2 separate regions of the Homo sapiens genome follow, and region 2 is linked to region 1. A link means that fine-mapping ties the variant in region 1 to the expression of a gene that starts in the linked region. Tissue or cell type: whole blood. Region 1 holds a variant in brackets; the other region holds the start of a gene. All regions are shown on one strand. Distances are between the middles of the regions.

Region 1 (4,179 bases):
AAAGTGCTGGGATTACAGGCGTGAGCCACTGCACCCGGCCACATTTGGACTTATTAACACATATGAAGTGCTTGGTATTTTAGAGTGCTTCCACACACACAATCCTCATTAGAGATAGACAGGATGGGGAGAATTAATAAGCCATTGCCCGTGTTACAGTGAGGAAGCAGAAAGATGAGAAGTTTGAACTTTGGTCAGCCTGGCTTTCTCATAACCCATTTTGCTGACTAAATTGCGAGTATCCCTCCTTTGGTATATTTATTGGTGAGAAGTCACAGCCCTTGTCCCACAGGTTTTGCAGCCAATCAGGAGAAAGAAATTAGGCACCTGTAAAGTATTACTGAATCATAGATAGTTCACCAGTGGTTTGGGCAGTTGGCAAATTAATTTAGGGACATCTGTTCTGAAACAGCATTGAAATAGGACTGACTGCTTTGCTTTCTGGTTGTGGCAGCCAGAGCCAAAGGCAGATGAATGAGGGGCTATGAGGAGGCTACTGTGGCTGGAACAGTATGAAAGCAACCTCAGCTCCCACGCCTGGCTGTAAAGGGGATAATAACTGGGTGCTGCTTCCCAGCCTCTTTCATCTGAGAAGTTCAAAGCACCTCACCCCTATTAACACCCCACAGAGTAGGTAGGAAGTACCAATAGAGCAAGCCAGGAAAACTGAGGCCAGGAGGCACAGCCTGGGGCTAGCTGTGAATCACCTGTGGGGCCTAGAGCCCAGGAATCCTGACGCCCAGGCTACTGGACAAATCCTTTATCAGGGCATTAGGGTGGGTGCTATGCTTTTGAAAGCAGTACCAACGGCTGTGGTCGTGGGTTTTGATGCTTGCCACTCACAGAGGCCCCAGCTCTCACCATAACAAACCAAATGGGGGCTGGAAGGCATCCTTTACAACTTTATGGTCTCGTATGCAAGCACCCTCAGCATTCTCTGCACCCATGGAGTGGAGATGGGTGGGAGTAATCCAAGGCCTTTATTTTCAGGCCATGGTTTGACAGCAAGGGTATTTTCTTCCCCAATAAACGTAGCTTCTGTCTACCTTCCACTGGCAGCAAAATGATTTTCTGTTCTCTGCATATACTGAGGGGATCTGCACAGTGCAGAAAGGAAGATGTCCGAGATCCAAGTGAGGCCTGTTCAGTGTGAAATGTCTAGGGTAGAAGAAAGACCATCCTCCATTATGGCTGGCATGTGGCAGTCATCCTTAAGATTATTTTTAAATTTCCTAATAAATATAGGAAAGTAAAAAACTTAGAAAATGAAAGAGAAGGCCGAGCACGGTGGCTCACGCCTGTAATCCCAGCACTTTGGGAGGCCAAGGCGGGCTGATCACCTGAGGTCAGGAGTGTAAGACAAGCCTGACCAACATGGTGAAAACCTGTCTCTGCTAAAAATACAAAAAAATGAGCAGGGCATGGTGGCATGCGCCTGTAATTCCAGCTACTTAGGAGACTGAGGCAGGAGAATCGCTTGAACCTGGGAGGCGGAAGTTTCAGTGAGCGGAGATCGCGCCATTGCACTCCAGCCTGGGTAACAAGATGGAAAGTACATCTCAAAAAAAAAAAAAACGAAAATGAGTCACCCAGAATCCCATAACGGAAACTTTCTATGGGGTCATCTGTTTAAGAGAAAAATAAATTCTATATTCAAATGTATATTTTGTGTATTCTCTTTTTTTCTCATCTCTGTAAATACCTGGAGATATTTTATGTATTCTTTCAGCCTTATTTTTATACCTGGGGTGGATATTGCATTTATATAAGTGGGATATTTTATAATTGTGTTGTATCCTGCCTTTTTCAGTTAACACCATTCCATGTAATAAAAAATAGATACAATTCCTGTAATTC[T/C]AGGACTCTGGGAGGCTGAAGTGGGAGGATCACTTGAGCCAGGAGGTGGAGGCTGCAGTGAACTATGATTGTGTCACTGCACTCTAGCTTGGGCAACAGAGTGAGACCCTGTCTCAAACAATCAAGTAAATAACCTTTTTAATGTCACTTTGGTAATAGTCCATGGTTTGGCTATAACATTGTTTACCTATCCATACTCCCGTGGTTAGCCTACTACTAGCCTACAAGTCATCACCAACTTTTACTTTTGTAAATAGTGTGATTAATATCCTCGTACCCAAATCATTGTCTGAGTCTCTGATTTTTAACTTGGGAGGTAGTCCTGGAAATGAAATAACTGACATATTCCAGGTTCTGGATTCATGTTGCCAAAATGCTTTCCAAAAAATGTGCCACTTTACATCTCACTGATAGTGTCTGAAATTGCTCTTCTCATCTCCAGACCTCCCTTGACAATTCTCTACAACTTCGGGAGGGAGGAAGCCCTCTCTGAGTGTCTTAGAAGGGACCTTCCTGGTCATCCCTACTAACCACTGACATTAGGTTATATGCATTTCTTGGCTCTGAACTGGGAACCTCAACAATTAGAAGACAGTGTAGAATTGGAAGAACTTAGCAGGGACCACAGGTAATTGGAAAGGTTTCCAGCCTGACAAAGAGGCTTAGGCATGAGGGTGAGGCCCTAAAGCCCACAGAGCTGAAGCACATCCAGTCTGCCTGGATTAGCAAAATGCTCACCCGCTGGTGGCTGAGAATATAGGAAGTATGGTCCCATTAGGATCTGTGGGAAAGAGAAAGGGAAGGCCGATTTGAGGAATTCTCTGTCCCTTTCTCAAGAATCCTGAGGGGGGAGGGGAGTGGCTTCAGACCCACCCAAGCACTATTAAGGCCCTCGCCAATTTTGAAAGCAGTGAAGAGGCCCAATTATCCCGGAATCCTGGAGGGAAATTCTCTAGCAAAACACTAGTCCCCTCCTCTCTCTCTTCTCTTGTCTCTGGCTTTTGAGTCTTTACTTACCCAGCCTGATCTGGGCCATTCACTCTCTTTTCTTGTCCCGTTTAGAAGGAGTTGCAGCACATACCTCCATGGCATCAGGCCTGCTAAAGATGTGGAAACCTGTGTCCCTCATTTCAAGCCCAGTGTGACCTTTTCCAGCCAGGGAGCTAACTCCAGGCAGCCCCAGAAGCCCAGGTGTCTAGATGGGCCAAGACAGGGGCTGTGACAAGATGGGGTGGGGATTTAGGGGCCAATTGAGGTGGAAAAAAGACAGTGAAAACAAGTAAAAAATGACAGTATTGGTAAATTGCTCTGGATGAGAATGCACAGCGAAGGTTGTTTTTTTCTCCTCATTCTAAAACTCTGAAGCAGTTGTGGAGGAGGGACATGAGAGGCCCATTCACAGCCATGCCAAATAAACGTGAATTTTTTTTTTGAGACAGAATCTTGCACTGTTGCCCAAGCTCACTGCAACCTCCACCTTCCAGGCTCAAGCCATCTCCCACCTCAGCCTACTGTGTAGCTGGGACTGTAGGCCCATGCCACCATGCCTGACTAATTTTTGTATTTTTTGTAGAGATGGGGTTTCGTCATCTTGCCCAGGCTGGTCTCGAACTCCTGAGCTCAAGCTATCCTCCTGCCTCAGCCTCCTAGAGTGCTGGGATTACAGGCATGAGCACCCGGCCAAATGTGAAGTCTAATGCAGTGTGCTTGCCATGTCAATGTAGCTTCCAGGAATGTCCCCTAGTGCCTCCCTTTGCACTGAATTGTCACCTCCAAGTTCTTCCTATATTTAATCCTGGAGCCTCCACATTGTGGAGTCACAGAAACAGCAAAGAACGGAGACTGGGACATGGGTTAAGATTTCCCTTGGCCGGGCGCGGTGGCTCACGCCTGTAATCCCAGCACTTTGGGAGGCCGAGGCGGGTGGATCATGAGGTCAGGAGATCGAGACCATCCTGGCTAACAAGGTGAAACCCCGTCTCTACTAAAAAATACAAAAAATTAGCCGGGCGCGGTGGCGGGCGCCTGTAGTCCCAGCTACTCGGGAGGCTGAGGCAGGAGAATGGCGTGAACCCGGGAAGCGGAGCTTGCAGTGAGCCGAGATTGCGCCACTGCAGTCCACAGTCCGGCCTGGGTGACAGAGTGAGACTCCGTCTCAAAAAAAAAAAAAAAAAAAAAAAAAAAAAAAAAAGATTTCCCTCAACTCATAAATCATATAATCTCAGTAATCTCAGAGGTCACATAATTTCTTTTTAGTAGAGACGGGGTCTCACTATGTTGCCCAGGCTAGTCTCCAATTCCTGGGCTCCAGCAATCTGCCTG
Region 2 (4,179 bases), 49 kb after region 1:
CACCCTCAGGACAACCTTACGGGGTGGGTACTATTATAAATCCCATTTTACTGATGAGGAAACTGGGGCACTGAGGGGGTGAAGTGACTGCCCTGAGGTCACGCAATTAGTGGGTGGTGGAGCTGGGATTTGAACCAGGTCTGTTAGAGTTCTTAACTACACTGTATAATTAAGAGGAACAACCACAAAGGATGGGGAGTTGGGAGGGGACAGCAGGGCTTATGAAGCAAGGGTGGGTGGGTGGGCGTGTGAGTGTGTGTGCAAGGAATCACAGTGCAGGTGGCTCAGAGGTGGGTGGAAAACTTCTAATACAAATATATGACCCTCCATCCATAAAATGGAGATTATGTGTGGGCCAATCCTGGGTCACCGGGGGATATGAAGAGGACAAAAACCTAGGGGGGCAAATATGACCTGTCACACGAAAGCACTCCGAAGTCTTTCCTGAAAAACAACAAGGCACCGCAGCTGTTGCTGATGTGGAACAGGCCAGAGGGACGTTCCAGAATGTTGAGCAGGGAAAGAAAGCCAGGTGGTCAGCAGGGGGGCCAGGGGCCTGGGAGCCGGCTGGGTGGAGGCGGGCGGGATCTGAGGGAAGGACAGGAAGCTCTGGAGAACCTAAGGAAGGTTCTGGAGAAGGAAAGGGGGCCCGAGAGGCCCAAAGATTTTGAGAAAAGATGCCTTGGGGCCTAGGGTGTGCGTGGCTGAGGGGAAGCAAAAGCGGGGTTGGTGTCTGAGACTAGAGAAAAGGAGGGGACCCTGGAGGGACCCGGAGAGGGCAGCGAGGATGACTAGGATGTTTATGGTGGGTGTGCACAGCCAAAGGACACACAAGATCTAGAAGTGGTCAGGAAGGGATACAAGGGTCAGAAAGAACTTGGGGGGTTGGCAAGAGATGGTCCAGGGATGGGTGAGCAGGAGGGGCCTGTTCAAGAAGCCCTGGGGCAGGTTCTGAGAGGGCAGCGAGGATGGGGGCCGTGGAGGGGCATGGAGGCTGGTGTTCCTGGCAGTGGCAGGCAGACAGGTGCCAGGGTGGGGTCAGGGAGAATGGAGGGGCTGGGAGGGTGGAGGGCACCAGCGCGGATGGGGTACCCAAATGGACCAAGGAGGATGGGGCATCTGGCGGGGATGGGGGTGCGCAGGGGCCAGGGGGGCAGACAAGAGGCCCGAGGAGGATCCCAAAGGGGCGGGGAGGATGAGGACCAGGGAGGCGAAGGGGAAGGCACGGAGTGCCCAGCAGGGATTGGGAAGGTGGGGTGCGCGGCAGGGGGCTGGGAGGGGGCGCCGAGGCAGCGGAACTCACTCAAAGACGAAGAAGAGGCCGGTGGTGGTGAGGATGAGCAGCAGCGTGAGCGCGAAGACGCCGCCGTGGCCGGCCAGCATGAGGCGGCCGCCGCAGTAGAAGCGATTGCGACCCGGGAACACCTCCCACTTGCGCCGTGGGCGGCGGCCGAGGCTCCCGCTCCCGCTGCCGCTGCCGCTGCCGCTGCTGCTCCAGCGCGGCGGGGCGGGGGCGGCGGGCGGCGCGGGCCCGGGGCCCGGAGTCGGGGACGCGGCGGGGCCGGGACGGCGCGCCCCCGGGGAGGCGGGCAGCGGGGCGGCCCCGGGGCTGATCTGCTGGTACTCGCAGTCCTTCATGCAGCCAGCCGCGGGCCTCGGCTCCGCGCCCCGCGGGCCGGCCGGGCCACTCCGGGACCGGGCCGAGCAGCGGAGGTGGCAGCGGCGGCGCGCGCGGCGCTCGCTCGCTCACTCACTGGGGCGGCCCCGCCATCGCTCCGCCCCCGGCCCGCCGCCACCGCCCGCCGCGGCCTCCCGCCGCAGCGCCCCCTCCGCCTGGGCCCGGGATGGCGCTTGGCCGGAGGCCCAGCTCTGACCCGCGGCGGGGCCCCGCAGGTCCCCGGCCCTCCCAGTCTCCCTTTTCCCTTCTGCACAAAGAGGGGGCCAGCAGACGCGCACTCGAGGGCTCTTTCTGTTCTGCAAGCAAGCCGTTTGTTGGGCGTCCACTGTGTACCAGGCACGGTGCCAAACGCCGAGATTCAGGTGGTGGACTTCGTGATCTACTTCTGGCAGTCTGTAATTCCCCAGGCTTCGCCCATCTCTGAGGGTCGAACTGACAGGCATTTGCAGAGGCAGGCAGGCGCGGGGAGGTGGGGCACACGATTTGCTTTGAAAGCCAGGACCTCTTCTACCTTGAAGTCCAGAGTGCCCACTGGAGGTGTGTGGCACACCCTCTGGCCTCGTTCACCAAGTTCTGTGTCCTGGGCCCAGGCCCAGATTTTCCTAGGTAGCACATAATGTAGAGGGGTCATGCCTGAGGGCCCCAGTGTTTTTTCAGGAATTCTGGGAGTATTCATTTTCTACTGCTGTGTAACAAGTTACCACAAATTTAAGGCTTAAAACAAACATTATCGGCCGGGCGCGGTGTCTCACGCCTGTAATCCCAGCACTTTGGGAGGCCGAGGTGGGTGGATCACAAGGTCGAGAGAGACCATCCTGGCCAATATGGTGAAACCCCGTCTCTACTAAAAATAAAAAATTAGCTGGGCATGGTGGCACGGCATCTATAGTCCCAGCTACTCGGGAGGCTGAGGCAGGAGAATTGCTTGAACCCAGGAGGTGGAGGTTGCAGTGAGCCGAGATTGTGCCATTGCACCCGGCCTGGTGACAGAGCAAGACTCCGTCTCAAAAAAAACAAAAAACAAACGTTATCTAACAGGTTCCAGGTCAGGAGCCAGAGAACAGCTTAGCTGGGTCCTCTGCTTAGTCTCACAAGGCTGCAATCAGGCTGCATTCTCATCTGGAGACTCAGCCAGGGAAGAATCCACTTGCAAGCCCATTTGGGTTATTGGCAGAATTAACTTCCTTGCGACTGTTTAACTGAAGAGGGCCTGGGATTTTTGCTGGGTGACTGTATAACTGAGGAGGGCCTGGGATTTTTGCTGGGTGTCTGCTGGAGGCCTCTCTCAGGATCCAAAAGCCACCTGCAGTTCCTAGAGATTATCACATTTCCTTGCCATGCAGGTTTCTCCTACATAGCCACTTAGTTTCTTGAAACTGACAATGAGGGTCTCTAGCTCCAGACTATGATGATAGAGTTTTATATAACTTACTATATATGTGACAGAGTGGCATCCCATCATCATTGCCATCTCCTATGGTTAAAAGCAAAGCACAGGAGCCATCTGCACTCAAGAAAAGGGAATCACACAAGGCGTAAATACCAGGAGGCAGGAATCATTGGGGGTCAGCTTAGGGTATGTCTGTCACACTGTGGTTACTGTAAAACCTAAGGAAAAGTGCAAGGAAAAAAAGAACTGGAGACTAGGAGAAAGTAAAAAAGGAAGTAAAAATATACAATGGGGAGGAGTAGGAAGCCGACAACAGTGACCTTAAGGATCAATAATTGATATATATGCCAAAGGCTGCTCAGCCGTGCCTTTGGTGCCAAAGGCTCTCAATATGATGAGCCCCATCTTGAGCAAACCACATGGTGAGCTTCCTCCCTTTTTGCTCCTTGGCTGTGGAACAAAGTCACAAAACTAGACATACTGGTTCCAGTACAGATTCCTGTTGTCCCACCTTAACTGGGTCCTCTTGCAACCTGAAACCTTTTCTTTTTTCTCGTCACTTTACAGAAACCAAAGCAATCCTACTGGATTTTCAGTTTACCTCCTCTCTATCTCATAATTTCTCTTTATTTGCATCTGTCCTTTCTTCTTTTTTAGAAGATGTGGGCCTCCTTCTGTCCATGGCCAACCCTCCACTCATATCCTTATTTTATTTTATTTTTTATTTTTTTGAGATGGAGTTTCGCTCTTGTCACCCAGGCTGGAGTGCAATGGCATGACCTCGGCTCACTGCAACCTCTGCCTCCTGGGTTCAAGTGATTCTCCTGCCTCAGCCTCCCAAGTAGCTGGGATTACAGGCATGTGCCATCATGCCCGGCTAATTTTTGTATTTTTAATAGAGACGGGGTTTCACCATGTTGGCCAGGTTGGTCTCGAACTCCTGACCTCAGATGATCCGCCTGCCTCGGCCTCCCAAAGGGTTGAGATTACAGGTGTGAGCCACTGCACCTGGCCTCTTTTTTTTTTTTTTTTAAGTAAGGCTGATGGAACTCCATTTTATTTATTTATTTAAGCCCAATAGAACTCCAAACTCATGTCCTATCTCTCTTCC

Evidence for each region. PIP is the estimated chance that this variant, and not a neighbour inherited with it, causes the effect. A credible set is the group of variants that fine-mapping cannot tell apart.
Region 2: it holds the start of ZDHHC18, and the variant in region 1 is the best candidate, but not a certain one, in a credible set for the expression of ZDHHC18 in whole blood (INTERVAL, PIP 0.73).

Annotation. Positions count from the first base shown.
Region 1 is chr1:26,873,615-26,877,793 of GRCh38, reverse strand. GPN2 (GPN-loop GTPase 2) reads left to right here. Exons shown (of 5, transcript NM_018066.4): 5 at 1-1,662. It overlaps GPN2-AS1 (GPN2 antisense RNA 1), which reads right to left and starts at 1,660. Exons shown (of 2, transcript NR_199049.1): 1 at 1,484-1,660. RefSeq lists an enhancer at 2,421-2,920. The variant T/C (reference allele first, on the strand shown) is at 1,858.
Region 2 is chr1:26,824,264-26,828,442 of GRCh38, reverse strand. ZDHHC18 (zDHHC palmitoyltransferase 18) reads right to left here and starts at 1,755. Exons shown (of 8, transcript NM_032283.3): 1 at 1,304-1,755. The coding sequence starts at 1,638. RefSeq lists silencers at 1,488-1,697, 1,708-1,857, 1,821-1,973.